Linked DNA regions of Homo sapiens. The protein of the gene in region 2 interacts with the protein of the main gene of each other region in a pairwise test. Each region holds a gene or a part of one and is shown on either strand. Other genes may lie near its edges. The genes, in order: CFAP68, AGXT, EFS and FHL5.

What was found.
Region 1: the proteins of AGXT (region 2) and CFAP68 interact in binary tests that used the Homo sapiens proteins (3 or more experiments, as listed by UniProt).
Region 3: the proteins of AGXT (region 2) and EFS interact in binary tests that used the Homo sapiens proteins (3 or more experiments, as listed by UniProt).
Region 4: the proteins of AGXT (region 2) and FHL5 interact in binary tests that used the Homo sapiens proteins (3 or more experiments, as listed by UniProt).

Annotation. Positions count from the first base shown.
Region 1 is NC_000011.10:111,875,547-111,884,309, reverse strand, and holds the start of CFAP68 (cilia- and flagella-associated protein 68), read right to left. Parts: upstream 4,770-8,763; 5' UTR 4,750-4,769; coding exon 4,705-4,749; intron 2,826-4,704; exon of another isoform or gene 2,788-2,825; coding exon of another isoform or gene 2,695-2,787; intron 1,943-2,694; coding exon 1,712-1,942; intron 1,175-1,711; coding exon 1,108-1,174; intron 540-1,107; coding exon 430-539; 3' UTR 1-429. Other genes in the region: FDXACB1 (ferredoxin-fold anticodon-binding domain-containing protein 1), read left to right, coding at 5,178-5,349, 5,598-5,754, 7,299-7,502, 7,671-7,829, 8,206-8,763. UniProt on the Homo sapiens protein: Microtubule inner protein (MIP) part of the dynein-decorated doublet microtubules (DMTs) in cilia axoneme, which is required for motile cilia beating.
Region 2 is NC_000002.12:240,871,652-240,878,823, forward strand, and holds part of AGXT (alanine--glyoxylate aminotransferase), read left to right. Parts: intron 1-1,327; coding exon 1,328-1,398; intron 1,399-2,326; coding exon 2,327-2,411; intron 2,412-3,457; coding exon 3,458-3,553; intron 3,554-4,283; coding exon 4,284-4,353; intron 4,354-5,885; coding exon 5,886-5,981; intron 5,982-6,370; coding exon 6,371-6,499; intron 6,500-7,062; coding exon 7,063-7,170; 3' UTR 7,171-7,172. UniProt on the Homo sapiens protein: Peroxisomal aminotransferase that catalyzes the transamination of glyoxylate to glycine and contributes to the glyoxylate detoxification.
Region 3 is NC_000014.9:23,355,057-23,363,092, forward strand, and holds the end of EFS (embryonal Fyn-associated substrate), read right to left. Parts: intron 5,778-8,036; coding exon 5,499-5,777; intron 5,226-5,498; coding exon 5,085-5,225; intron 4,984-5,084; coding exon 4,261-4,983; intron 3,910-4,260; coding exon 3,820-3,909; intron 2,605-3,819; coding exon 2,170-2,604; 3' UTR 1,350-2,169; downstream 1-1,349. UniProt on the Homo sapiens protein: Docking protein which plays a central coordinating role for tyrosine-kinase-based signaling related to cell adhesion. May serve as an activator of SRC and a downstream effector. Interacts with the SH3 domain of FYN and with CRK, SRC, and YES.
Region 4 is NC_000006.12:96,614,208-96,619,975, reverse strand, and holds the end of FHL5 (four and a half LIM domains protein 5), read right to left. Parts: intron 4,368-5,768; coding exon 4,204-4,367; 3' UTR 1,350-4,203; downstream 1-1,349. UniProt on the Homo sapiens protein: May be involved in the regulation of spermatogenesis. Stimulates CREM transcriptional activity in a phosphorylation-independent manner.

The DNA.
Region 1 (8,763 bases), on a different chromosome or scaffold from region 2:
TAGAGACAGTGTTTCACCATGTTGGTCAGGCTGGTCTCGAACTCCTGACCTCACGTGATCCACCTGCCTCGGCCTCCCAAAGTGCTGGGATTACAGGCATGAGCCACCGTGCCTGGCCTAAAATAATTCTTTTTAAGGCCCTTCTACAACACCCCAAATGTAGAACTGAGTTGCTGTATTAAATTTGACATTTAAATCTTGGTTAAAACAACAACAAAAAAAGGGATAAAGAATATTTACTGTGTTTTTTGCTTTATTTATTCAGAGAGTGAAACTGTGTTACAGTGAGCTAAATTTTTAGCTGTACTTAGAATGTGCTCCCTCCTACATTTCACTCTGGAAAAGTGAAGTATCTTATCATTTCTTAGAAACCTGGATGTGAAACTAGTCAATATTAAGATCTTATACACATCCTGAGTGATGCCCAATTTAAGGCTTTGAATAGCTATTCATGTAAGTTGACTTTTCTGTGCATTTGTATCGGGGAGGATCCAGTTCAGGTTGATGTCCTGGGAACCAGTGAGGCTCTCGCTTAAATCCTGAGGGAAGAAAAAAAAAGGAAGGAAAGACAAATGAAAACAGTCAACACTAAGGAGTTTTAGTAACTGATCTTGCTCTTATTTCTAGGGAATAGACAGTAAGTCCTGTTAAAATTGAAGAAAAAATCCTGTTTACTCATTCATGTAGTTATTCACCTTTTTTTTCTTTTTTTTTTTTGAGATAGAGTCTCACTCTGTCACCCAGGCAGGAGTGCAGTGGCTTGATTTCTGCTCACTGAAACCTCCACCTCTCGGGTTCAGGTGATTCTCCTGCCTCAGCCTCCTGAGTAGCTGGGACTACAGGCATGCGCCACCAAGCCCAGCTAATTTTTGTATTTTTTTTAGTAGAGATGGGGTTTCACCACGCTGGCCAGGCTGGTCTCAAACTCCTGACCTCAAGTGATCTGCCTGCCTCAGCCTCACAAAGTGCTGGGGTTACAGGTGTGAGCCACTGCGCCCAGCCTCACTTATTCACCTATTCAGTTTACTTTTATTTGAGTTCCTTCTATGTGCCGGTCACTGAGTTAGGTTCTGAAAATGTAAGAATTTGAAAAAACAGTCCACGTACTATGTGTTGAAAGTGGCATTTTGTTGTTGTAGCTTGTATCATATGTTGTTTCAAAGTAGTGTCCAAACTGGAAAGAAAAATTAACAGATTAAGAATCTGGAAGTCTACAGCTAACATCAGGAAATAAAGATCAATATGACATGAATTCTCACGGACTGTCATATTTTAGATGGACTGAGTTCTATGGTGTTAGTCTATATCCTTCTAACTTTCACATGTTTTGTACGTTTGTTTGTTTAGGAGCGATTTAAGTGCAAGACTCAGATAAATGACAAGTCTAGATAGGCAAGGACCAGGGGAAAAGCTAGTCTAAGTCAGAAGACATTATAAATTTCTGTAGACTAAGAGATAAAGTCCAAACAGAAGTAAGAGAAAAAGAGGACTGCCCTTCCTTTTGAAACCTTACAGATAATAAAATATTCAACTTGACAGTAAAGTAGCATAGGTGGTTCAGCTGCGGACTGTTCCTCTGCCCCAACCACTTCACTGAAAACTGAGAGATCACTGCACCAGAAGTTATTACATCCCTGCATTTCAAATGGCCACTACATTTCTTTTGCCAACAGAAGGAAACAAACAAACAAAAAAGACAAAGTTAGATTACCTGGGAAGGCAAGGGTTTGGGCTGCACGATATTCCTCAGGTCATATCTTTCCTGGTTCCAGTTGCCCATCAGGGTACGGTTTGAATAGGTATTCTCATTAGTGGTGCATCGCCATCCATACTGGAAAAACTTGGACATATTATTCCAATCTGTCCACACTTCACCATGGCCATCTGCATTAACAAGGCTGCCACAGTGTGGGTTTGTGAGGAAACAGGCGAGGTTCTGTCTCTGGGAAAAGACAAGAATAGAAAAGCTTATTGCATAAACCAGAGAAGAGAAAAAGCATCTTTTCCTGCCCTTGTTTTACATAGCCAGGTATAACACAAGCACACCGTACTAATGATCCAGGCTATGTTATGGTTCTGTTTCTTCTTCTCTAAGTCCTGGGACCCTTTGATCCATTCTTTCAATCAGCAACAGTGGGTGACTACATGGATTAAATCCACACCCCCGCTCCCCAGGCCCCGTGAAGAGACAGGAAAAACTTCAGTATTCCCAATACAATATGGAGAATTAGCTAAATTTTTAAGGTAATTTTGAGATGTAGGCATTGAGGGACTAAAAGCACTGCTACAGTCAAAGAGAACAAAAAGAAGTGAGAGTTGAGTAACTAGATAACACAATAAATGAGTAATAAATGATCATTTCCTTCCTTCTAGCTCAAATGATGCCTTCCCTGAAGTTAGCTTCTCTTTCAACTCACATAAAACTTTATCTTTCCCTGTATTTATAACTTTTTACCATACATTAGAGTTCTTTAAGTCTGCATTATATCTCCTATACAGAGCTGTATGCCCCTTAAGGACAGGATCTGTTTTATTCATTATTGTACCCTGTCCTTCTGCCTGTTCTCCCAATCAATCTGGATTGCATATACCAGATGATCAATGTCTGATTTCATTTTTTTTGGTAAGATAAAAGCTCAATCTTTCTTTTTCCCCAAAATGTGAGTCTGGCCCCCTGACTTAGGAAGATGATACCTTTCCTGAAGAAGAGTAACTTGATGCTGAGTAGGTTGAGCTCTTTGAAGATTTCTTATGAGAGTCACAGAAATCCTTACTTGGCTGTTCCATGTTCTTTAAAGATGTCAACAAACCTGGCTTTCCCAGTTCTCCAAGCAAAGAAAGAATCACCCAGATTACCATGGGCAAGTGGCCATGATTTGGGAGTCACCACCCACTTGCCTTTCCACAGGCAGAAACAAAGCCAATAATGCAGCATTGAAGGATGACATCCCAGGTAACTACCCTCATACCATCTGCCTTTGTGAAGACAGATGCATGCACTGATGTTACCAAACAACATGATGACCAGAGTAGCTGGTGCCACAAAGTCCAATGGGCCTGGTACTCATACTGGAGATCTAGGTGTAACTGTCTCTAGGGCTGGAATGACAGACATCACCATCCACTCAGTTGTCCAAGCCAGAAGCCTGGGGCTTATCTTTGACTCTGACTTGTCTTTAATTTTCATCCAGTCACTAAGTCTTGTTGATTTTTGAATCAGACTGCCACCCTCCATTCCCATTGCCAAATTTCAATTCAAATCACTGTCAGCTTTGTCTCCATTATTGCAGTTGCCTCTTGTTTTATCCTGCCATGCCATCAGCCTTGTTCCTCTCCAAACCTTTCTCCACAGGAAAGGAGAATTTTTCAAAGTGAAAGTATAATTGTATCATCTTCTTATTTAAAATCTTTCAGTGGCTTTCCACCGTTTTCAGAGTAAGATTCAGTCTGTTAAAATGGCTTACAACAGAACAGAGAACCAAATACAGCATGTTCTTGTTACCGGAAGGGGTCCTGATCCAGACCCCAAGAGACACAAGAAATAATTCAAGGTGAGTCTATAAAGCATAAGGAAGTTTATTAAGAAAGTAAAGGAATAAAGAATGGCTACTCCATATGCAGAGCAACCCTGAGGGCAGCTGGTTGCCCATTTTTATGGTTGTTGATTATATACTAAACAAGGGGTGGATTAATTCATACCTCCACTTTTTAGACCATATACGGTAACTTCCTGACTTTGCCATGGCATTTGTAAACTGTCATGGCGCTGGTGGGAGTGTAGCAATGAGGATGACCAGAGATCACTCTCATCACCATCTCGGTTTTGGTGGATTTTAGCTGGCTTCTTTACTGCAACCCGTTTTATCAGCAAGGTCTTTATGACCTGTATCTTGTGCTGAGCTATCTCATCCTGTGACTAAGAATGCCTTAACTTACTGGGAATGCAGCCCAGGTCTTAGCCTTATTTACCTAGCCCCTATTCAAGACGGAGTTGCTCTGGTATAAATACCTCTGACATTCTCACTTATAAGTGGGAGCTAAACATTGAGCAAACATGGACCTAAACATGGAAACAACACACACTCCAGGCTACTAACTAGAGTGGGGAGGGCGGGTGGTGTGGGTTGAAAAACTATTAGGTGCAATATACCCATGTAGCAAACCTGCAACCTACCTGGGTGCAATATATCCACGTAACAAACCTGTACCTGTACCCCCATTTGTAAAATAAAAGTTGATTTTTTTTAAAGGCTTACAACGCTCCCTATGACCTGGCCCCTGCCTAACTCTTCAGTCTCATCTGTTACTCTCCCTCCAATTGTGTTTCAGCCAAACTCAACTATTCTGTTTCTCCATCAAGCTTTTGCATATATTGTTCCTTCTGCCTCTTCACGCCTCTTGACTCAGTTAAGATGCACTTTTACCCTGTTAGCTTTCAACTCGGGTTTACTTCATCCAAGGACTCTCTGACCCTCTTCGCCCCCAAACTTGGTAACGTTCTTCTGTGTGCTCCCAGAGCACACACCCTGCCATATCAGAGTTGCCTGTTTTGCTCTGTGCATTCCCCACCAGACTGCAGGCTCATTGAAATCATAGGCCACATTTTGTTCATCCACATATCGTAACCACCCTCACAGTGGCCTGGCACGCAATAGACACTCAATACTCTTTCTTGAACGAATAGAAGATAGGAGATTTAAGCACCTGGAAGAGAAATTTTGAGCAGCAGAGACACTGGGAGGCAGCCATTTCAGACGAGGTGAAAAAAGGTTCAAAACCTTCTGCGTCAGGAGCATGCGAGACACAGTCCAACCTCTTCCTTGGCCTCAGCCCCGCCCCGTTTCTTTCACCCAGAACTCGCCTCACCCCCCTGCGCTAGTGACTGCTTGTGACCTCATGCAGGTGTGATGAAGTCGCTCAAGGCCATGCTTGGGCTAAAGACACTTTGATCTTCCCGAGGGGGTGAAAGGGCGAGGTGACAGGAAAGTGCGCGTCTTGCTTTTGCACTCATAGTTATCATCCACCGGGGAGTCGGTACACCGGCTCGTCTAGACAACCAGGCGCCATGGGTGCGTCATCAACTAGTGACGGGAGAAGACGGGGCGGAGAGAGATCCGTGAAGGAAGTGACGTAAAACGAGCGCCACAGAGAACGCGAGCCGGGAGTCCGTGGAGGCCATGGCCCCTCGGCGCCTCCTGTTGGTTGGGGAGGGGAATTTCTCCTTCGCCGCCGCTCTGAGCGAAACCCTGGATCAGAGCACTCAACTTACCGCCACCTGCCTCCAGCGCCCGGCCGAGTTGGCTCGGGATCCACTGGCCTGGGAGAATCTGCAGTGCCTGCGCGAGCGAGGTAGCGAGCCCGCCCCTCTGCGAAACCCCGCCCAGCGGCCGGCGCGTCCCAAAGTGGAAAGGGTGGGGGCGTGGGGATGTAACCCACGTGGAGATTGTTCTTGATCGTCCCACGGATATTCACATAAAGCCGGCTTTGTGCCCAGACTTGGGCTGGTCTGCACGGTTTAAGTTAGGAAGAGTTTTTCTGTTCCATGTCTTGAGGCATCCTCCTGTCTATATTTTGCGCCCCCAAACTATCTTTGCCAGGTATCGATGTACGTTTCGGTGTGGACTGCACCCAGCTGGCAGATGTCTTTGAACTGCACGAGAGAGAATTTGATCAAATTTATTTCATCTTCCCGCATTGTGGACGCAAAGCTGGCGTAGCTAAGAACAGGGAACTGCTTGCCAAATTTTTCCAAAGGTGAGGAAAGGAGCGCCCTCACAAGGAAAATGTTTAAGATGTCCATAACATAGTTACTGTACCCAAACATAAGGCACACGTGCAAGCTACTATGATATGTTTAGAAGAGACTATAAAGCCCCAAAGGAACCCCAAGTTTAGTTGGAAAGACAGATATATAAACCCTAAATGCTAAATGAAAGTACAAATAATGTACTCTTGGGTGTGTAAAAGAGGATCATTTATTTTTGACAGTGCAAAATAATGAGAGCCATATAGTCTAATGGCTAAGAACGTGCACTTAGAAGCCAGACTGCCTGGATTCAAATCCCAGCCCACCACTTAACAGTTGTTATTTTTTTATTTTTATTTATTTTTATTTTTTGAGACAGAGTCTCGCCCTGTCGCCCAGGCTGGAGTGCAGTGGTGTGGTGCAATCTCGGCTCACTGCAAGCTCCGCCTACTGGGTTCACGCCATTCTCCTGCCTCAGCCTCCCAAGTAGCTGGGAGTACAGGCGCCCGCCACCACGCCCAGCTAATTTTTTGTATTTTTAGTAGAGATGGGGTTTCACCGTGTTAGCCAGGATGGTGTCGATCTCCTGACCTTGTGATCCGCCTGCCTTGGCCTCCTAAAGTGCTGGGATTACAGGCATGAGCCACCACGCCCGGCCAACAGTTGTTATTTTAAGCAAGCTTACTTAATCTTTACATGCTTCCGTTTCCTCAACTGTAAACTAGGGATATTAATAGTAACTAACTGGGCCAGGCGTGGTGGCTCATGCCTGTAATCCCAGCAGTTTGGGAGGCCGAGGTGAGCAGATCACCTGAGGTCAGGAGTTTGAGACCAGCCTGGCCAAAGTGGCAAAACCCCGCCTCTACTAAAAATATAAAAATTAGCTGGCCGTGCTGGCACGTGCCTGTAGTCCCAGGTACTTGGGAGGCTGAGGCAGGAGAATCGCTTGAACTTGGGAGGTGGAGGTTGCAGTGAGCTGAGATCGTGCCACTGCACTCCAGCCTGGGCGACAGAGCAAGACTCCATCTCAAAAAAAAAAAAAAAAAAAAAAGTAACTAACAGCCTCATAAAATTATTGTGAACTGAAAACAGTGCTTTACATGATTATACCACAAGACATGATACTATTGGAGGTGTCCGATGGGGCATAGCTGTCAATAAAGTTTTGACAGAGGTGGTATTTTAAACTAGTATTTGAATTTCAGGAGGGCAGTGAAAAGAACTTTCTAAATGGGAAGAAACAGCCTAAGCAATGAATCATATATAGGAACTGTGCAGATATTGATCTTTCTGTGACATATGCATGAATGACACAAATGCAAAGCAGACCCTGGTCAGCCAATCTTATCAGTGAGTGGGTTGAACATTTAATTTATGCTTCTATTTACTTCCAGCTACTTTCTTTGCATTTTTTGAGGTCTAATAGATTTTTGCACATAGGTATGATTGGATTTTAATTATTTCACAGGCAAACCATGTGTATGTTGCCAACTCCTGTGGTAATTTCTGCTTGTTTATGATAATTAGTTAGTGTTTCTTTTCTCCCTATTAGCTGTGCAGACGTTCTTGCAGAGGAAGGAGAAGTCCACGTGGCATTATGTAGAGGACAAGGTGGAACTCCTGCGGATAAGCCCCAGAGAGAATGGCACAACAGTTGGCAAGTGGTTGCCATGGCAGCCCTGGGGGGGCTCATTTTAAGCGACGTGTATCCATTCAGCTGTAAGGCTGTGGCAGGGTACAAGTGCACTGGATATAGGTAGGTAATAGCATAGGTTTAAGCCTTCTGCGTTTTCATCTCTCTCACTAATGATAACAAAATCTCATAGACAGACTCAATAGGCCCTGCCAATTAATTGATTCGGTCTCTAAAAATACTTGCTTATTTTAATAATGACAGACTTCATATTGGTGTCTATTTTGCCAGGAGTCAAGATAAGTCCTTTCATGTAGAAGGTGCTTTGAACCATATCTTCACCAGGAGCTTACCTTTTGAAGGTTCTCAACCCAGAATCTTCAGGATCAAACTGGGTAACCAGTGGTTTTCCTTTCCAGAACCAGAAGCACTTGTAGGAAAGTTGAACAGGTAACCAGTTATTTTGCTGGAAATCACTTCCATCTCCAGTTGTATCCTGATTGTCTTGATGGCAACCATATATTGAATGGATGGTGCATAAATTGTTAGTGATGTTGGTGCTATGTTTATTTGTCAGCCTGGCCTCCTTAAGCATCTCTAGAATTATAAATGGTCACATTTTCTGATATATTGTAGGGATGGTGGCTGTCAGAGTTCTGAAATACACGTCTGTTTCTCCTTATGGTAGATGATTTCTTTGTTTCCTTTCAAGATCAATTTAAAGATAATTCTTTTCTGTCCAGCTATTTGTATTTTTAATTCTAGCTACATTATAATTATTTACTATCTTAAGTTAGAAAAGTTATTTTTGTGTGTGTTTAAACAGGGGTTTCCTGGAAGCACCTTCATGTCATCCTATCAAAACCATAAATGAGAAACTCATTGCTGAATTAGGCAAAGTTTTCCCGCTAAAAAGGCTGAAGTGTTCCTACCCTTTGCTGCCACAGGAAGGTACCAGTGTTCTTCCTTTCTGGAATTGTGACTTTCTGTCAGCTGCTTTTTGGATTAGTCTCCATGAAGATAACTCAAATTCTGAGTCCCTGACTGGTGGGACATCACAAGATGTGGAAGACTTTCTAGTGTCATTTTCAGAACTTAGCCTTCTCAAGAATCCTGGAAGAGATGGTAAAGAAGAAGCTTGTGAAGGAACCTGTGGCCAGGCCAAGATCTGCCTTAGACCTTCTCTCCTAGTGCATGTTCAGGATGTCATCGAAGTACCAGACTTCCTCTCAGGTTCTCTGCACATCCTCAGTGGACCTGTCTTTCAGAAGTGCCACATTTTGCCTTTCACAATGCCAGCATTTCATGAAACTTTATTTATCCTTGGGGTTAATCAAAATCTGAAGGATGGCTGTCTTCAATCACTGCTGGATCATCTGAAGGG
Region 2 (7,172 bases):
TGCTCCCTGGCCGAGCGCCCCCATAGTGCCCACTGACCTCTGTCCCCAGGGCTGAAGAGGGCTTGGTGCAGACTTCCATATCTTGCCAGGGCCTGTCCCCACCTCACCCCGAGATTGCCAGGACACTAAAGCTGCCTGATGCCCTCCACTTCCCTCCTCCAGCCTCCCTCATCCCCGCATGGGGGTGCACAGGGCAAGGCCTTGAATGGAGTCAGATGGGATTCCTGAGAAATGCGGACAGAGCCCCTTGGGACCCAGCAGTCCCGTCTGCAGGTCTGAGCACAGGACAGAGGAGAGAAACTCCACGGCCAGGGAGGGTCCTTCTGACAGGGCCCCCAGCCCAGACAGCTTGCTGCATGGACCGTGGCCATGAATAAAGCTCACAAACATAACCTGGCCAGCTTCAGCAACACCCAGGCCATCCCCACCTGCGGCCAGCACGAGATACTTTCTGTGTCTCTTTTTTCTTTATAAGAAAACCTGGAGGTGGAGGAGGGTGAGAGTTTGTGAACATGGAGGCGGAGGAGGGTGAGAGTTCGTGAACATGCAGGCGGAGGAGGGTGAGAGTTCGTGAACATGTAGGTGGAGGAGGATAAGAGTTCGTGAACATGCAGGAGGAGGGTGAGAGTTCGTGAACATGCAGGAGGAGGAGGGTGAGAGTTCGTGAACATGGAGGAGGAGGAGGGTGAGAGTTCGTGAACATGCAGGCGGAGGAGGGTGAGAGTTCGTGAACATGCAGGTGGAGGAGGGTGAGAGTTCGTGAACATGCAGGAGGAGGGTGAGAGTTCGTGAACATGCAGGAGGAGGAGGGCGAGAGTTCGTGAACATGGAGGCGGAGGAGGGTGAGAGTTTGTGGCGCTGCTGCTTGGGCTGTTCTGGGACTCTGTCCCCTCTGGCCTAGATTCTGGCCAGTGGCTGGGCCGAGCAGCTGTTGGCAGAGGTAGGCCCAGCCTGGTGCCACCCTGGTCCCTGGGGTCCACACAGGCCCTCAGGCACCCGCTGTCCCTGGGAACCACAGACTGCCCGGCTGACCCTCTTCAGCACCACTGCCGGGCCCTGCAGCTGGGTCTCACCAGGGCCGTGATGCTCCCTCACTCCCCCAGCTCCCTCTGCTCCAATGTTCAGGGCTGAGAAAGGAAGAGCCACAGGTCCTGATGGATCCTGACAGGCAGGAGAAGGCAACTGGCCAACTCCTGGGGTGGAGGTGGGAGGTGCCCTGCCTTCCTTGCCAGCCTGAGGCTCAGAAACCCCATCCAGCCTGGGGCCAGGCCCTCCAGTGGCCCCCTGCCTCACCTGCTGCCCTCCATTCTGTCCCCCACCTCTCCAGGTACAAGTGCCTGCTCCTGGTGGATTCGGTGGCATCCCTGGGCGGGACCCCCCTTTACATGGACCGGCAAGGTAAGGGTGGGCTCTGAGAGCCCTACCCAGCCCAAGCAGCCTTGGGGCTCCGCGTGCAGGAAGCCCTGCTGGAAGCGTGCGTCCAGCAGCCGATGCTGCGGATTCGGCCCCATCTCCACCAGGCCCAGGGAAACACTCACTCCTTACTGCGGCAAGAGCGGCTCCATGAACTACCCAGCACCCCAGTGTTTCCACTGAGCTTTCAGATCCAGGCGTGGGGACTGGCAGGAGGGACAGCTTCTGGTGGGGGACATTTGAGATGCCCCAGAGCTGTAGCAGAAGCAGTGGGAAGAGGAAGGGCCAGGGCTCCAGTCAATCAGGCGTTGGGCACCCCTCTGCCCAACCCCCCAGAGGCTCAGTTTCACATCTGCCCTGCGCCCTGCCAGGCTGCCCATAGCAGTGAGCACCACTGTCAGGGTCACCTCGCAGGGAACCTCAACCAGGCCGGCCGAGGGGCCAAGGAGCCTCCTGTGCCCATCCGCTTACGGGAGAGAGCCTGCACATTGCATCCACTGCGGTGCCTGCCCACCCACTCCATGGGAGCCTGTCTGTTTCTGCAGAGCCCCTCCTGATTTGGGAGTTCTCAGGCAGGAAGGGAGGGATTTCTGGGCTGATCCTCAAACTACTACTGAAAGCAGGGACCTGGGGAGGGCCCCAGGGACACGGTGCCTGGGGTGGCAGGGCTGTCCCTGGGGACCAGCACAGCAGAGGGAGAAGCTGCGCTAAAACGCTCAGGCCTGAGGTCATGGCTGCCACGCAGCAGTGCCCAGATTTGAACCCAGGACTCCCTTCCACATCTCCCCTGCTATCGTGTACGGATTCGTGGTAGGGTCGTAGCCTACCAGCCCATTAGCTAGGCAGGCATCCCGCTGGACTGGCCTGCCCTGAGGTGGGACTCACCCGTCCCGAGCAAACCACCCATCTACAGGCATCGACATCCTGTACTCGGGCTCCCAGAAGGCCCTGAACGCCCCTCCAGGGACCTCGCTCATCTCCTTCAGTGACAAGGCCAAGTGAGTGACCCACAGACCCTCACCTCTGTGCAGGGCTGGGCTTGCAGGGAGCTCAGGTGGCCCGAGGCGGGAGGGGCGGGAGCCAGGCAGGAAGGGCTCCCCATGCTCCTCCAGCACCTGGCGCTCTCCCGCCCACCCTCTGGGAGGCCAAAGGCACTGCGTTCACAGGGAGTGGGGAGGCCGGGCGAGGGGAGGGCTGCAGGCGTGTGCAGGGTGCAGAGTCCACTGCTCTGGAAGTTCCCAGCTTCACAGCAAGGAGTGACCAGGAAAGGACTGAGGGCCTGAGGCCCAGTGCCCTGACCGGCCTCTGCCCTGGCTCAGCTTCCAGGGGCTGCCCCAAGGGACAACGTGGGCCACACACAGTGCCCCCTGCAGTCCCAATCTCACCTCCCGCTCCTGGTGTCCAGATTCTGAGCCAGGCCGGGCAGGGGGTAGGGGAAGGGGGCCAGACCTCACAGGCGGTTCCCATCCAGCTGCAGCCTGGCAACTGGAGGTGCCGTTCCCCAGAACAGAGAGGACTTCGGGGAGAAGTCAGGAATTCGGTGTTGGACGTGGGAGGTCTGAGATGCCAGCTGGACCACACGGGAGGGTGAAGGAAGCGGCTGGGTGTGAGTCAGGAGCCTGGGGAGAGGCCGGGGCTGGCCCCTCCATCTGGAGTTGTAGAGACGGACACATTTAAAGTTTCAAGCCTGGCCAGTGTCCCCTGGGGCCCGAAAGCAGTCACCTTTGGGTGATGTGAGAAATGAAGGCTGACCCTGTAGGAGGGGCTGGGGGAGAGAAAGGGGCACACAGAGTGGAGGGAGCTGGCCTTGGTGCCCCCATGGCAGGGTCACACAGCTGGGCCCAAGGGCCAGCGGGACTGGACAGCTGAGGGACCCACGACCCACCCGGTCCCACTCTGGCCCCTGAGCACAAATGCAGCTGGGGCGGGCCCTCCTGGGGGCCCCACCCCGTCTCACTCCCGTGAAACAGGACAGCCAGCGAGACTGCCCTGGCCTTCAGCCCAAACTGAGAGGCTGGTGCTCAGCCTGCTTCTTTCTCCCCAGAAAGAAGATGTACTCCCGCAAGACGAAGCCCTTCTCCTTCTACCTGGACATCAAGTGGCTGGCCAACTTCTGGGGCTGTGACGACCAGCCCAGGATGTGAGGCCTGGCAGGGATGGGAAGGTGGAGGGCGCTGGGCATGGCTGAGAGGTGGGGCGCTGGCCTCTCACTGCACTCAGGGATTCTCCAAGCCCCCCACCTTCATGCCTCAAGAACCCCAACTAGAGCCCCAGAATCCGCCTGCATCAGGCAGTCAAATGCCCCACCCTGGGTTCCCCCATTCCTCGACTGGCCCGAGGCTCTGGGCAGGGTCATGGCCCCCACTGCCGCTTCCACAAACACTGTCCCCCCAGAGGTCCCAGCACACCCTCGGGCACTTTGGACCTGGCCCTGCCACATCTCCCCACTCCTGGGCCTCAGCTTACCCCTTCTGAAAAGACGACCTTGGCCATAAACCCAAGGCCCCTTATGTTACACACAGGAACAAGGCGCCAGGAATGGTGCCCTAGCCCAGTGGGCACAGAGGGCCAGTGCCGGCTTCGCAGGCACGCTGGGACTGAGGGGCTCCGCAGGGAGGTGGTGGCACGTGTCTCTGCTCCTGCAGCCACCCACTGCCTCCTGGCTGGGCCCTACACAAGCCATGCTCTCCCTGGCAGACGAAGCTGCCTTCCCGGTCCAAAGTTCTGAACCCGGACAGGACTCCTCTGCGGAGGATACCGGCCTGTGGTCAGAGAGCCTGTGCTGTTGGGGCTGGGGCAGACAGAGCTAATGCCCCATCTGCCCCCAACCCTGCCCATGGTGCTGGACCAAGCCCCCTCGTGTCTTCCAGGTACCATCACACAATCCCCGTCATCAGCCTGTACAGCCTGAGAGAGAGCCTGGCCCTCATTGCGGAACAGGTGCATGGGCTGCACTCCACAGGAGGAGACAGGGCCACTGGCTGGATTGTCGAGGGCGCGGCCTGCAGAGAAGGAACCATCCCTGGTGCACAGAGAAAAGGGAGCCTGCCAGAGAGAGGCCCTCAGTGGGGGTGGGGGAGAGAGGACAGGGCCCCGGGTACACTGGCTGCGGGCAGGGCCAGGGGGATACAGCCCCAGGGACAGATGCAGCAATGGGGCAGGTGTGGATGCTCCCAACCCTTCCATTGCTGTGTGAAGCAGTAAGTGAGGCCCAGTGAGTGGGTGGGCTGGGAGAAGGGGAGGCCGAAGGGGCCAGAGATGTGCCCACAGATAGGTGGGCGTGGATGTAAAGTGAGGGTTGGCAGTTCCTGCAGGCTTGTCCAGCTCCTATGGCAGGGCAAGAGCTGAGCATGAGCACTTGGGTGTGACCAGGGGTTGATTTGGCCACTGCAACATCCACACTCTCAGGACACTGCAACATCCACACTCTCAGGACACAGGCGGCTGAGAGTGGCCTCAGGCCCAGCAGCTCTGCAGGCCACGAGACAGGAAGTCCCACCTACTTTCATCTGGGTCCTGTGTCCCACAGGGCCCATTGCCAGCCACCAGTCCAGAGTCCAGGAAGGATCCCCGGGCTGCAGCCAGCTTCCCATGAGGTTGCAAGGCCGTGCCTGCCACGTTTGTCCTCCTGGGTCCACTCATAAAGCCACTGCCTAGGGCTGGGTTAGTGCCAGGGTGCCCCTGTAAGCTAAATGCCACCCGCACCCGCGGGGGAAGGCGAGGGGTCAGGCGCTCACACAGGGAAAGGCTCTAGGGTCGTAAAGGTGGGTGGGGGGTGTGAGCTGGGCAGAGAAGGAAGAGAACAGGACCAGACAGCAGGGCACAGTCAAGGGCAGAGGCACAGGGACCTGGCAGAGTGCAGATTGCAGGGGCACATGCGCAGAGAAGACGGGCCAGGGCCAGAGTAGAGAGCAGCTGCTGCTCCGGGGACCCACCTGGGGTGGCCATGAGAGCTGGTGGCTGGAGGCCGGGAGGACCCGTGACCAGAGGTAATGGCACTGAGGGGCCCAGGGCTGGAGAGACCACCCCTCACCTGTCCAGAGCTGAGGCAGGAGCAGTGCTGCGGAGGATGCCAGGTCGGGGGAGCTGGCCCTGAGAGGAGAGGGGGCCTGGGAGCCAGCACCCTGAGCCCTGGCCCTGATCCACTCCAGCCCTGTGTAGCCCAACAGCCCTTCCCCTCCTTGCCCAGTCCCCTCCCCCTGCAAGGCACTCTCCACTCTTCTCCCCCAGGGGCCACAGGCAGACCTCCCCTCTGTCTCTCTGAACCCTCCTCTGTCTCTCCCAGACCCAGATGTTTCCTTCTGCCCTGGGGTAGTCCCAGGCCCTGCCCCAGGCAAAGTCAAACTGGGGGCTCCAGGGGCTCCCCTGCACCAAGGCCTGCAGAGTCAGGTTCTTCCTCCCGCACCACAGAGGGCGGGGCTTCCTGCCCACCCCACCCATGTCACTGCCCACCAGCGCCATCTCCCACACAGGGCCTGGAGAACAGCTGGCGCCAGCACCGCGAGGCCGCGGCGTATCTGCATGGGCGCCTGCAGGCACTGGGGCTGCAGCTCTTCGTGAAGGACCCGGTAAGGAGGCCCCTGGCATTGGGCAGCCCTGCACCCATGGGGAAGGATGAGGGGCTCTTGCCCAGCCCCCTCAAGAGGGACACTGGCTCCTGAGAAGGAGGGGGCGGCTGCCCGGTGGTGTGGCCTCGGTGCCAGGGATTAGTCTCGGCAGGAGCCACGAAGTCACAGCTCCCGGCCTCTGATGCGGGATCTCAGGACGGCCTGTGATCTCCCAGTGGGAAGGTGCCCATCCACCGCCTCCTAAGGGGTGGGGTCCCTGCTCTCTCCCGGCCCTTTCTCCCCCGGCTCCTCTGGAACCTGAAGCTGGGGCAGATGGTGCAGGCCAAGAGCTGTCACAAAGGCCCGTACAGGGCCTCTCACCCACGCACTGAGCCAGGCCCCTCCTGCAGGCGCTCCGGCTTCCCACAGTCACCACTGTGGCTGTACCCGCTGGCTATGACTGGAGAGACATCGTCAGCTACGTCATAGACCACTTCGACATTGAGATCATGGGTGGCCTTGGGCCCTCCACGGGGAAGGTGAGAGGGAGCGCCTCGAGGGCCTTTTGCAGAAACCAAACCCGCCACCCCTCCTTGAGCAGGACTGTGCACCAGGTGCAGGGGAGGCCGGGGTCATCCGAAAGCCCAGATTGCAGGAGCGTCCAGAAGGGCCCACTCTCCAAGGGGTATCCAGTAAAGCGTATCCTGTCGCCCCTGCTCCCACCCCAGCCCACTGAGGTCACCAGGTGCAGCCTTTATGATTCCACTCGGAACATCCTTCCTTCCCTCTGACCAGACCCTGGAACCAGGCCGGAAGCCCCACGCCTGGGCCTGGCTGTGTCTCTGAGTGGCAGTGGGGAGGGACCTTCACTGCACCACCCTGTCCTCCCGTGTGGCTGCGGGTGCAGAGGGAGGAGAGCCTGCCCTGGCCTGGGTGCTCAAGGGCCCCCTCTGTGACCTGCACAGGGCTGTCAACTCCCCTCATGGACGCTGGGTGGGTGGTCCTCACTCAGGTGAGCCCATCCTGGCTCTGGCCAGCTGTCGGTCAGGGTCAGGCAGGTCCCAGGCGGGAGGCTGACGTCAGCCCGCCCTGTGCCCCCCAGGTGCTGCGGATCGGCCTGCTGGGCTGCAATGCCACCCGCGAGAATGTGGACCGCGTGACGGAGGCCCTGAGGGCGGCCCTGCAGCACTGCCCCAAGAAGAAGCTGTGACC
Region 3 (8,036 bases), on a different chromosome or scaffold from region 2:
CCACCACACTTGGCTAATTTTTTGATGTTTTGTTGAGACAGGGTCTCACTGTGTGGCCCAGGCTGGCCTCATACTCCTGAGTTCAAGCCGTACTCCGGCCTCAGCCTCCCGAAGTGCTGGGATTACAGGTGCGAGTCACTGCATCCCTCCGAAACATTTCTTTGCTAATGCATCAAGCAGCCTCCTACCACTTCCCCTCTCCCAACTCATTTCAGCATCTCTTCAGGTTTTACTATGGTGCTGTATAGCCAATATTCCTTGGGGATTTATCGTCTGCATCCTTGTGTCTGTCCTGGAATAATAATCACTTAATTTATACATTGTGGGGCTGTTCACATGCATTTTCTTGTTAGGTCCTCACAATAACCCTGTAAGACCATTATGATCATGCTAATATTGAAGATGAAACCAGGACTTCAGAGGGACTGGCATGATTTACCCATGGATGCACAACTACATGGCAGATCAGAGACTTGAATTGAAACCTCTAATTCCAGGCTAATCTCTTGAAATTCTGTTTGGAAGATGATGGACGATAGACTTCAACACATGGGGGTGAATTTTGTTGGCCCCAGAATCTGACAGTGCATTTTTCTTTGAGAGTGAGATGAGAAAGGAACCTAAAGGGGAGGAGGCAAATGTGCAGGGGTGCCAACAGACTATGATTATGCCCCCAATCCAGTCATCATGCCATGGTAATATCTTGGGAAAGCAGAACTGAAGCAATTGATTTGTAGCTTGGATGTTTTCCCTTGTGGTAAATGGCTAGCGTGATCTATCTAAGCCACGGTCTTATCAATTTCACCAAAGTCCTGAAGACTGACCTTTCAACACATTGCATTCATCTGCAACCGCGGATCCTCCAGAAAATGGTTTGTCCAGAAGGATGATGAGCAGGTCATCCTGAGATGATCTACCTGGGAAGCCAAGTGAAAAGGCCTATACCCTCTTGGTGTCACCTAAGGAAGAGGGTGCCTAGACTGGCCAGCAGCAGTCTCCAGTTGGCCAGGGCTATCCTGTGGTGCAAAGCTGAGGCTGGGCCTTTAGTTGGGGTGGCCTCTCCAGGATGGCACATTTCAAGGCCCTTATGTGGTCAGCTTCTCTCCACATTGACACCTCTCTAATGACATCATATGACAATGAAGTCTTGGAGGAAGGCCCTCAGGTCAGTCATCGGCATCTGCCTTCTGGGAACACTAGTCCTCAGACTCTCCTCCTCTGGGTTTCAGTTCAGATCTCACCTCCCAACCATCCTGTCTAAAGTCTCCTTCACTGCCCTCTCCCCTCATCTAGTTAGTTTCTTCAAATCATCCTGCCGACGTCCATCACCAGCAAATGTCGAATCTATGGCAGGTTTATGTTTTTATTTATGTATTTTAACTGACTTATTTGTGTATCCCACTAGAACAATACATTCACAATATACTTGCAGAACTGTGCCTGGCGCGTCATGGGAGCAGAGAACTTGTCCAGTGAATAGTTGTTGAAGAAAGGAGTAAAATCTCCCCCAAACCCTAAAGGCATCCTTTTCGTAGTGTGTGTCCCATAGGTATGGCTGCTGAGCACCAGGGCTGCTCACCATGCTCCCAAGAAGCAGAGTCAGGGAGGCAGACAGCAGGGTTTATTAAGGTGCACACCCATGTCTGAGCCCCAGCTCTCTCCGCCTTCTGTGGGGAGAAGCCCTCCGGTCTTTCCGAGAACCTTCAAACTCTGGACAGTTTATGTCTTGCCCGCACTCTCAGCTAACAGTGCAGTGCTGATCTTCTAGAGCCAAGAAACAGGAAAAGAGAGAGGCTCTATGTGGCCCCAGGTTTCTGCCACCTGACTTTTCACAGCCAGTCTTCCAGAGGTGGGTGGTAGTGCAGTGACCTCCACCCTAGGCTGAGGAGAGAAGGATCTAGTTCCTCACTGCCCCAGAGCCTAGTACCTGCTCCTGACAAAGCAGGGAATAATATTAAATATAAATAATTTACACAAAATGGCTTGTACAAAAAGCTGTAGGTTAGGGGGAGAAGACACCTCTGTGAGAGGTTGAGATGAGCAGAAAGGGCAGGAAAGGGGAAAGATACCCCCATTTCTCCTAGTCCCTTAACAAAGCCTTCCAGCCACCCAAGGCCTAAAGGGGGGCTTTGGCAGGCAGGGGAGGAGCAGAGCTGTGCCAAAGGACCTTCATGGAGCCAGGCTAGTGAGCAGGGTAGTGAATTGCAGGGCCTGCCCTGCCAGTTCTGTTACACACTGCACCATCTCTTGGATGGCAGGGCTGGATGGGTAGCCCAGGGCAGCTCCCTTGACAGCCAGCACAGTGGCCCGCAATGCCTGGCCCAGTGCTGTACCTGCAGCCCTGACCTGTGCTCTCAGAGGGGCAGAGGCTGCCAGCCGGCCCAGGGTGTCCCCAACAAACACCAGGCGATGAGCAGCCACCACCACCCTCTTGCTGTGGGGCACGAAAAGGCGCGGGGGCTGATTAGCCTGGGTACTGGACATCAGGGCTGCCACGGCTGCCTGCAGGGCTGAGTAGTGGCTCTGGCATTGCCCAGCATAGAAGTACAGGAGCTGCAGATCTCCGGTGGACACAACCAGTGGCTCCCCTGGGGACAGGGCCTCCTGAAGGGCAAGAGGAGTGGTCAGAGAGAACATTCTCATGAGTGCCATTTCCTCCCTCACTTCTTTTCTCCTTCCTCTCTTTCTTCCCAAGGGCGATCCTTTTAGCTCTTACCTCTGCCCATCGGAAAGTTTAGATTCTAGAGAGAGCAGCAGTGAAGTGCCCACACTTGATATCAGATAGATCTGGATTCAAACAACCTCAAACTTGATTTCGGACAAGGCTTTGAACTTGGTTTCCTTAACTCTAAAACAGGGAGTCTAGGACTGCACTGTCCAATATAAACATAATGTGAACCACATGTGAAATTTTAGATGTGTTAGTAGCCACATTAAAAGTGGTTAAAAAAAAAACAAAACCCTAATATATTTTATCTAACTCCAAATATAAAAATGTTATAATTTCAACATATAATCAACATGAAAATTATTGAGATTTTTCCCATACTGAGTCTGTAAAATCCAGGCTGCATTTTATATTTGCAGCATATTTCAATTTGAACTAGGCCTATCTTGAGTGCTCAATAGCCATATGTAGCTAGTGGCTACTGTACTAGATAGTGCAGTTCTAGTATGTACCTCATGAGGCTGCAGTGAAGGTCAATTGAGATAATATACAGAAAGGGCTTAGCAAAGTGCATTTCACACTGTGAGCACCAGATGAGTGTTAACTGTGGCTGTGATTAATACTAACACGTGCAGTGTGCCTAGCACAGGGTCTGGCACTTGGTAAATACCTGATAAATGGTAGCTATTGTGTTGCGACCATTCTACGCAGGGTTGAGGAAACCACCTCACTTTCTGAGGCCTGGAGAGATTAACTGACGGCTTCAAAGCCCCTGGCTTCTCAGTAGTGAAGCTGGGATTAGAAGCCAGGTCTCTTAGGAGCCCAGGAATTCACAGTTGGAAGGAGGCTCAGAAGTCCCCAGGCCCAGCTCTGACCCCACAACTCAGAAACTTTCTGCTCTCCTGGCTGCTTGATTTTCTGACTCCTCTCCAACACATTCTTTCCCCTCTTTCTGAATTCCTAACATCCTCTTCCAAGGTCCAGTTCCTTCCTGTAGATTTCTAACTTGCCTCCGCTCTGTCCCTGGTTCCTGTGAACTCTCACTCCATCCTAACCTATTTCCTTCCACGGTTGATGGCTCAGTTCTTCTCCCAAGTCCCCATTCCTCCCTCCCCTGTCCCCTTCTCTAGCACCATTCCCGCCAGGGTCACCTGCGGCGCCGGCATCCCCCTCTCGGGCAGTTCAGGATCCCCTGTGCAGGCCTGATCCGGGGGCCTAGATCCCTGAGCTTTGTCCATGCCCTGCAGGAGGGGATCAGGTCTCAGTGTCGGGGTGGGGGAGCAGGACGGGGTGGCCTCTGTGGCCTTTCTGCCCCTTCCCCGGACCCCCTTCCTTCCGAAGGACACTCCTGTTATCAGAGGTTGTAGTCCCTTGACTCCAGAGAGCTCTGGTGGCCCCAGGCTGGGTCTAGGAGGAACAGTGTGGCACTGGTACAAGTGTTGTGGCCAAGTACTGGGGTCCCAGGCTGCAGGGTAGAGGGAAGGGGGACAGAAGGGAGGCAGGGAGGCTCTGCCTCTGTGCCCTAGGTCTCCACACCCCTCCCCTTGGTCCCTCTGGGGTCCCTCCTGGTGGGGCTGCCAAGGGGCGCTCACCTTCAGGTGGACATAGTCATACTCCTCGGCCATCGGAATGCCCTCGTACTCATTGTGGTGTCCTGCTGGGTCATCCTCCATCTCCCTGCCCTCTGGATCCCCCTCGACCTTGGGGCCTCCATAACCAGGCAGGCGGGGTGGGGGTGGGGGCAGAGGCCGGTCCTGGATGCTGCCCTTCCGGCCTGGGGCAGGAGAGGGCACTGGGGAGGGGCTGGGGGCCTCAGGGACAGGCAGGGCAGGCAGAGGGCGGCGGGACAGGCTCTCAGCTGAGGGGAGCCGGGGCCTGTGTGGGGGTGGGGGGCTTCTGGCCAGAAGCTGGGCCAGGGTGTCCTGGTCATGGGAGGCCAAGGCTCCAGGGGGCTCTGGAGAAGGGGGAGCCTCTGGCCCCAGCAGAGGCACATCGTAGATCCCCTCATCAGTGCCCCCGCCCTCCCCGTCTGCCAGCAGTTCCTCGGGTGCTTCATACAAATTGAGTAAGGCTGACGCTCGTTTCAGGTTGGAGGGGGCAGCATAGATGGGGGGCCCCGGCTCCCGGCCTCCTTCCCACTCCAGATCTGGTTCCAGCTCTGCAGGTGGCTTTGGGGTCAGAGGCACATCATAGGGAGCATCATCCTCTCCAGGGGGCTGCGGGGCAACCCGGGTCAGAGGGTGGGAAAAGGAGGCAGGGCAGTCATAGGGGCCACTGGAGGGCACCCGGAGGGCGGTGGGGGGCACATCGTAGACCTGCGGAAAGGAGTGGTCAGTCATCTGTCAGCTCAGCGATGAACCCTCCCTTGGGGCCATTTGTCTCCCACCCAACATACACAGGGACCTCTAGCCCTCACCTCCAAGGCATCTCTGGGAGCAGCCAGCTGGGTCCCACTAGCTCTGGGGATTTTGTAGATGAGGTCAGGAGAGGGTGGGCAAGGTCCAGCTGGAGGTCCTGAGGTTGGACAGGGCCGAGCTGGGGGCGGCACCACATACACCTGAGGGATCAAATAGATGGGGGGTCAGGAGGAACGGAGGGGCCGGTGATCAGATAATGTCTGAGTGCGAGGAGCTTAGAGACCTTCTAACTCTCCCTGTATCGAGAGGGCCACAGCTCAGAAAGGTTGGTAGACAGGTTTCGTCCAGCGCAGAGCAGTGAAGAGCTGTGGCCTCAGGGCTCTTCCTGCCCACCTGCTGCAGGCCCTGGGTGGGGCTAGTTGGGGAGGAATGGGGCTCTTCTGGCTTGGGGTTGGGGAGGCTCCCACTCTCACCTCCTGGTCCTCATTGCTGTGATCTGGGGCTGGATATGGTGAGCCAGGCTGGGCTGGGGACGCAGGAGAGAGGCTGGGCTTGGGTGCTGGGCCAGCAGGCAAGAGCTTCACCCTGTTGGCGGGCACAATGCCCTGCTGGCCGTGTAGGGAGCAGAGGCACCAGCCGTCCAGTCCACCAGCGCCCTCTCTCTGCAGGACCCGTAGGACATCCCCTCGGCGGAAGGACAGCTCCTGGGGGGACTCAGCGGTGTTGTCATACAGTGCCCGGGCCAGCTGGGTCTGGTTGGGGAGGTGGGAGTGGGGAGAAGGGTCTTCAGACCCCTTTCAGGTCACGTCACCCCTGCTTAGAACCCTTCGGAGCTCCGCATTTCCCTCAAGCTAAAAAACCTGAACTCTGGATGCAGCTTTCTGCCTGGGCCCTAGCTTCTCTCCAGCTTCACCGCTTGCATTCTCCCTCTTCCTTTCAGTTCCTTCAACTAGACCAGCTCTCCTCAGAGAGGCCGATTCTTTACTCTTCTCCCCGCCCCATTCTCTGTTTGTCTCCACCTATTGTTTCCATCCTCGTACTTTATACTATTTGTCTATTTGCTTCTTTTGTATCGATTTCTTCCCTTATACTGTAAACCCTATGAACATAGGAACGGCTATATTTCTAGTCCTTGCAATAAGGCCTGACCTGGAATTGGTCATTACACATGTTGAATGAATGTCTTCCAAAACATGTGAAGCCCTGCTACAGTCTCTCATAGACCTTCTCTCTGTTCCCAAGTCATTATCCCTCACTAGCAAAAGGTTAGATTAAGCAGCCACAGAGACCTCTCATTCTGAGAGACTGGGAGAGGCCTAGTCCAGACAGTGTGCCTAGGCATAATAAGAAAGAAAACAGAAACAAAGCAATTGTTTTGCTCTCAGTCTGAGCAAATAAGTTTCTACCAGAAGAGGCTGAGGTTACCATGGAGAAAAGTGTGTATTCTTGTGTGTGTGTCACCACTGCCTGGGATCCTTCCAGCAGGCATCATCATTTAGCAATGGGCCCTTCCATTGCAGGACAGAGTGTGTCTTTGTGTGTGTGTGTGAAGGGGGTTGGCAGGCCAACCAAAAGGAAACATGTATCATTCTGTTTCCAGTCCTGTCTGGTGGGGGCTTATAAGCTTTTTCCATCAAGGGCCACAGGCTCAGGTAATAACTCACAGGTACCAAGTGCAAACAACGTTTCCAGACACTGTGCAAATCTTTGCATTAATCAACTCATCTCATTTAATTCTCACAACAACCTTACGAGGGAGGGACTGTCATTACCCCATTTTGGAAAGAAAACTGGAAGAGGGAGGTTAGTACTTTGTCTGATGCCATATCGCTGGCACAGCTTGTGGAGCATAATCTGAACCCTAAGCTGCTTGATCCCAGAGCCTGCGCTCTCAATCACTTGTGCTACTGCTTCTCCACAATTACAAATGTAGGAATCTACTTAAAAGAAAGAGTAGTAACAGTGGCTGAGAGGGTCCCTAACTCAAAAGCAAGTCAAGCGCATAGGAAAGCCTTCTTATACCCTATTTCCCTTTGCTATAACCCTTCGCAGTGCTCTTGCTCCATGATGTCATTTGGTAGAATCAAGCTAAAACCACTCAAAACATACAATTACATTCAGCTTCAGTTTTGATTGCTAAATGATGATGCTTGCTGGTAGGATCCCAGGCAGTGGTGACTTACATGTAGTGTTGGAGAGCAGCTAGTTAGGCATTACTAGCCAGGTAGCCAAACGGACTGACTAATTCAGCAAAAAAATCTCAAAGTTAAAGATCTCAGGCAGGCTGCCACCAGACCCTGGGGAGAAGGATGCCCTGCTAGAGTCAGCAGGAGTGCATATTCCTCTTAGCTGATGTTTCCCTCTGGTGGTGAGGTTATCCGGCCTCTCATGGCTGGGTGATTTTAACAACAAATTGACCCCTCTTCTTGCCTGATTCCCAACTCATCAAACCATTTTCTGATTATATTTTGGTTTCTAAAGGATATTGTCCCACACAAAGAAACGTGCTAACCAGATGACACAAATTCCCGGTTAGTGCTGCACTTTTCTTTTTAGTTGTAAATTATAAATCAGTCTTTTGGATCTAGCCAGGGGATTAAAAGCACAGTTCTAGAGGCAGACCTGGGCTTGAGTCTTGGCTGTGTCTCTTTCTTTTAAAATTTTATTTAAAATATTTCTTTAGAGATCAGCTCTTGATCTGTGGTCCAGACTGGAGTGCAGTGGCACAATCATAACTCACTGTAACCTCGAATGCCTGGGTTCAGCCTCCTAAATACCTGGGATTACCGTTGCGACCCACTGCTTGGAGGTCTGTCCCTTTCTTTTTCTTTCTTTCTTTTTTTTTTTTTTGAGACGGAGTTTTGCTCTGTCGCCCAGGCTGGAGTGCAGTGGTGCGATCTCGGCTCACTGCAAGCTCCGCCTCCCGGGTTCACGCCATTCTCCTGCCTCAGCCTCCCGAGTAGCTGGGACTACAGGCGCCCACCACCACGCCCGGCTAATTTTTTGTATTT
Region 4 (5,768 bases), on a different chromosome or scaffold from region 2:
TTCATGAAATATTTTCAGAGTCACAGAAATAATAATTAGAGGATATTTTTAGTTTAGAATATTTTCACCATTTTATTACTGTAAGAAAGAGCATAGCTATGGATCCCCTAATTTAACAGAAGAGAGATTCTGTTTGGGTCGGACAATTTTGTTTTTTTCCTATTAATGCCCTGAAATAATATCTGAATATATAGTTATAATTTGAATGTTGTAAAAACAGATGGGTAATAGAAGGTAAAAGTTATCATGTTTCTTTATGTAATCGAAGTAGAAACACTACAGAATTTATTCCACACCTATTCTGTTTACTAAACAGTTAATGTAAAAAATAAATCTTTAAAAATAATGTGAGTAATATAGACTATGTAAAATGTAAATTTATTCAGTATAAGAGACTTCTAAAAACCAATGTATAAAATTAGCAAAAACTGTATCATTATCATAATAAACATCTATCTATAGGTGCATTACAGACTATGTGCTTGATTAAATATATCTAAAACATACCGTAACAACTATTTTCTTTTTTTTTCTTTTTGTTTTGAGAGAGAGTCTTGCTCTGTCGCCCAGGCTGGAGTGCAGTGGCGCCATCTCGGCTCACTGCAAGCTCCGCGTCCCGGGTTCACGCCATTCTCCTGCCTCAGCCTCCCGAGTATCTGGGACTACAGGCGCCCGCCACCGTGCCCGGCTAATTTTTTGTATTTTTAGTAGAGACGGGGTTTCACCGTGTTAGCCAGGCTGGTCTAGATCTCCTGACCTCGTGATCCGCCCGCCTTGGCCTCCCAAAGTGCTGGGATTACAGGCGTGAGCCACCGTGCCCGGCTAAACAACCATTTTCTTATTTAAAACACAGACAATTAACAATATGCCAAGTAGATTAAAAGTTATTTTTTTCTTAAATTCAAAAATGGTATTGCTAACATGAAATGTGTTTTTGGATTGACTTTTCATTTGTGATATTAAATTTGGCAGTTTTTTTTAACCATTTGTGATTAGTGTTATGCATTTTTCATAATGGTAGGCCAATATTTTACTCTAATGAACAATCTAGTGTTTCTTTTTTTTAAGTTATAGCAACGATGTAAGCTTTGAAGCCTGGATTGTAACATAACCACATTTTACTTAACCAGTGGAGCTAGTTTGTCCCAATTTAACACTTTTATAATGCCAAGTTAAAATTGAACCCTTGGGCTTCCTAGTCATTATTATTGAAGCAGAAATACATTTTTGCTTCTTTTGTCATCTTTAATCCCCAACATGACAAAATAAAATATTTTGACTTGTTGACTTGCATACTCATCTTTGCCAACAAATGTAACTCGTGGCCTTCAATGCCTTCTTCCTCTTTCTTTTCACTTTTGTAGCCATTAACCAAACTTATTCCTTCAGTAAGAAACTTAATCCTTGGAACCTTGCTTTCTTTGGTTCTATTCCACAAAGGATCAAAAGCATAATTTTCCTCAAACACTACAATAATTATTTTCTTCCTTTACTTATGAACAGTTGGTAACTTTCTATGGCCGGTTATGTCACTTTTTATCCTAAGAGTTAATATTCTCCCTTCCTCTGACTCTTTCTCTTTTAGCAATCTTATTTTCTCCTGCTCTTCGGCAGTCTCTGCTACTTCCAAGCCATCTGGTTGTTATTGGCACATGGGATTTGCTTTTAACTTCTTTCCTGCCCATGCAGATGTCACCTTTGAATTACTGGGAGCCCACTGTTTCCTGAGTCAGTCCATTTCATCTTTGGATAAGTCCATTAAGGAGTTTTTCTCTTTGTTACATAAACCATATAAATCAACTATATAATTTTTACATTTATCTTTGTGTGTGTTACGCAAAGACCTAAGGAGGTCTTTTTCTTAGTTGTTTTGCATATGTGTGCTATGTCTACATATGTGGTGCTTTGTTTAACCTGCAGGCAAGGATCTTTGCATCAGGCACTTCTGCATTTCCATACCATGATCCATCCTCCTACAACTCCAGACCCACAACAGTATAAGCTCTAACTTTTGGCATAGTACATGTTTAATGGATGTTTGATGTGTAGGATACCTTCTAAATGCAGAACTATTTATATGTAAAAGTATATATATTTATACTTATGAAAGGATAATAAAATCTTTAGGAAATGATTCTGTGAATTTTAATTGTAAAGCTAGAATACAAGTCTGATCATGTGCATACTCACTGCCCCCACACAGTAAAATGCCTAAACATTTCCAATTGTTTAACTAAGAAAACATTACATGTTGTATATGTATCTATAATTGGTTAACAGAGAAGATGTTACATGTTATATATCTATCTAAACCTAAGTGGCTTGGTTTTCTCTATGTGTAATGTGCTATTATTTTCTATATCATAGATTTAGTTCTACCTGTGAAATTTCATATAATGCAGAAAAAATATTGATAGTTTTGCCTGTATTTTTCAATGTGAATATGAAAAAATACCTTGGCATTGTTAATCCAAAAATACATTTATAGTTTTCAAATAGTCTATCTAGCAGAACACTTATTAGTATCTCTAAATTATTAACATCGCTGAATATTCTTGCATTTTAAACTATTTCAAAAATTATTTCCATAACAATTTTAATTGAATCTCCTGTGATGCTATTTTGGTAATTGTAATCAGCAGTATCTTACAATTAGATTTTAATCAAAACCTTTAATGCTATAATGTGTAATCTGAGAGAAGACAGTTATATATCTATGTGGGCTTCTTCTCCTGACCTCCCTCTACTCCATCCAAGAGATGCTATAACCAATGTGAAAACAGATCATGGAGAGCAGAGGTTGCTTTCCATTTGTCCCAAGTAATGTGGAAAATATCCAGGGGTAGCAAGATAGGGTCATGATCAGTTAAAGTCTGGTATAAAGATAAACCTGGTGATGGACTTCTCACTAAGGCTCTTTACTTCCTGTGTGATCAATAAACACTGACTGACTTATAGGACAGTTGCTTAGGGTTAGGAGTGCACCTCCTGGTTATGCAGGAGATTGAAACTGGGGGCACAACTGGCTTGGGGTAAGGGGGGTGTGGCACAGGTGTGGGGGAAGAGTGGGGAGGGCTCGCCTACAGCCCACATTACTCTATTGTGCTGCTTTGCAGGTTCTGAATTATCAGCAGTGAATTATTCTTTTTCAGCTTTTATTATTACTAGATTTCTTTAAAGCCCACTTTTATGTCTGCCCATTAATCATTTATGTAATTTTAGAAGGCAATAATGCATGAGGCACAGAGCTAATTATGCATTCTATTATGTCGTTAGATATCTGGATGAAAGTCATGTTCCAAGACTCAATCCCTTCCCTAAAACTCATTTCCACAAGTGAAGATTTAATGATCTATTTATTTTAAAGGTTTGCCTTTGGGGACAAAGATTATCCTGGTTAGCTCCACTTGAAAGAATAGACTTTTATTTCATGGAATCTGTAAGCGTTTAGAAAAATCACTGTGGACTTTGAAAATATATTTAATACAAAACGTGTTGAAACCCATGCTTTGGCTATCCCTAGGTAGAAATGATCCTCTTTATACCTATGCAGATTATGAGAGCCATAATGTCCTCAGTTCTCATATTCCATTGAGTAAACACAGAACTAGCAAGCTGTGGAAGCAGTGTGTATGAGGGCAAATTGTAGCTTTGTTTTTTAATTCTACAGTCAGTATGTGTGAAAAAAAGGATGATTTTTAAATGATAACAATTCTTAAATGTGATAATTGCTAATGAATTTACTCTGATCAGTTTTGTTCTTTTACCATTCATAGCTAATTTATCACATTACATATAACCAGGAATGCAAACACTAGCCTCATGTATACCTCTCAGTTTGATCTCTTAGTTTTTCTTTTACTCTTCAGGTATGAAAAACCTCATTCTTCAGTAATTACATCCACAGCTCCTAGGTATATGTCATATATTTGATTATGAAGAGATATTTTCCTCTGCTTCTAACAGCAGAGTGCAGTATTTTGCAAGGAGAGTTGTCTTTGTGATTTAGCATATATTCATTTCTGTTCTACTGTGCTTTTTGTGTGCTTAGAATATAGTTCGATCAAAATGTGTGCAAAAACTTTTCCACTCTAAACTACATGAATATTTTCTAAAACTTAAGTCAAAAATAAGACCGCAACTGAGTTCTGGCTTTAGTGACAACGAAGGCAAAATGGATTTTAGGTGGGCAAGGACTGTCTCCTAGATGTCAGTGTCCATTCCGGAGCCACATTTTTGGCAGAAGATTTCCTTGTTCTGGGTCAGGAAGCCTTTACCCACCAAGGAGACAGAGCATTTCCCGCAGTTAAAGCATTCGCTATGCCACTGGCTGTCTTGAAAGCAGATAAACTTGGCACCTGTGAGACCTGTAAAGGAATTGGAGAAAAAGATTAATCTATCCTTTCAAGGAACAGATTGAGCATTCTAGCAGATGCTCCTCTAGGAACTGGAGATAGAGCTATGAGCAAAACAACGCAGAGGCAAATAACCCAAAAAAGAATGCTGCTTCCTGGCCCTGTGTCCATCTGGAACTATCCACTGTAGGAAAGTTACACCTATGCCACCCAACCAGATTCACAGCCAAATTCTGCCATAATCAACAGAAGAAGGCAGAATGCTAATATGCAAGTCAGGTATTTTTGGAAACAGATAAGGTTGTCTAAGCCAGATAAGACAATACAGTGTAGCATAGTGGAAAGAAGGTATAGGTTGTGAAGTCAGAGATATCTAAGTATGAATACATTTCCCCTTTTTCTCTATATGACTTTAAGTTTTCTTAGCTGCAAAATGAAGATAAAAGGAAATAAATGTATGCTTCCTAGTTTGATGTCCAATGTTGTAATGAGTTTTAGTTTTCTTCTTTCCCCTCATTTTTCTGTGCTTAGTTGTACTTAGAATATGTCCTGGGGTTATACGGTTTGGGACACTATTTCTAGAAAGCATAACCAAATAGAGGATTTTGTCTAATCATTCAGCCATCCTAACGTGATGGCCTTATTACCTTGCTCAGAGCCAGCTTCAGCTTTTGTTGAATCTGGCCAATGAAGCCACGTTATCACGTGATTGGTTTCTAAGAGCTTTGTCAGCCTCCTCCACTTTAACTTGGGCCTCACTTGAACCATACTGTTTCTTTAAAAAGTAGTCGAATTTGAATCTTCGGTGAGGGTCTGATCTCTGTCTCCTTAATGTGATTCCAGGGTATAGTTCAAGAAATTGATTTTGAGAAGTTACATTAAAGGAGAAAATGTTAGGGTTTGGGAAGAGGTTGAGATGCCCTAGGCTTGGGTCTTTATTTATTTCATGTTTTCTCCCAGTAATCTTAGTGCTATTATTTGCTTATCATCCATGGAGTGAGGCTAAAAGAGTTATGTAATTCATATGTAATTTCCAAATACTCCATTTGGAATGGTGAAGTGAAAGGGTGAATAGCATTCTATTTCAGATACATTCTTCTTAAATAGGATAATGAACTTTTGTTTCCATCCTAACAAACTTATTTGATGTCTTCATATATAATTTAGTAGTTCATACAGAAAATTGCATCAAATTTCTCTACTTTCCTTGATTAAATTTATAGCTTGCTTATCTATGATGCTATCAACATTACTTCCTAATAAATGTAAATTAATTATGTACTACTTAATTCCCTTAATGTTATTCAAAACATTAATAAGCTGACTGCAAGAGTAATGTTCTGTATATACATAAATTATGCTGTTCATAAAACTAATTATTACATGTCTAGCATTTTGATGCTCATGAGTTTT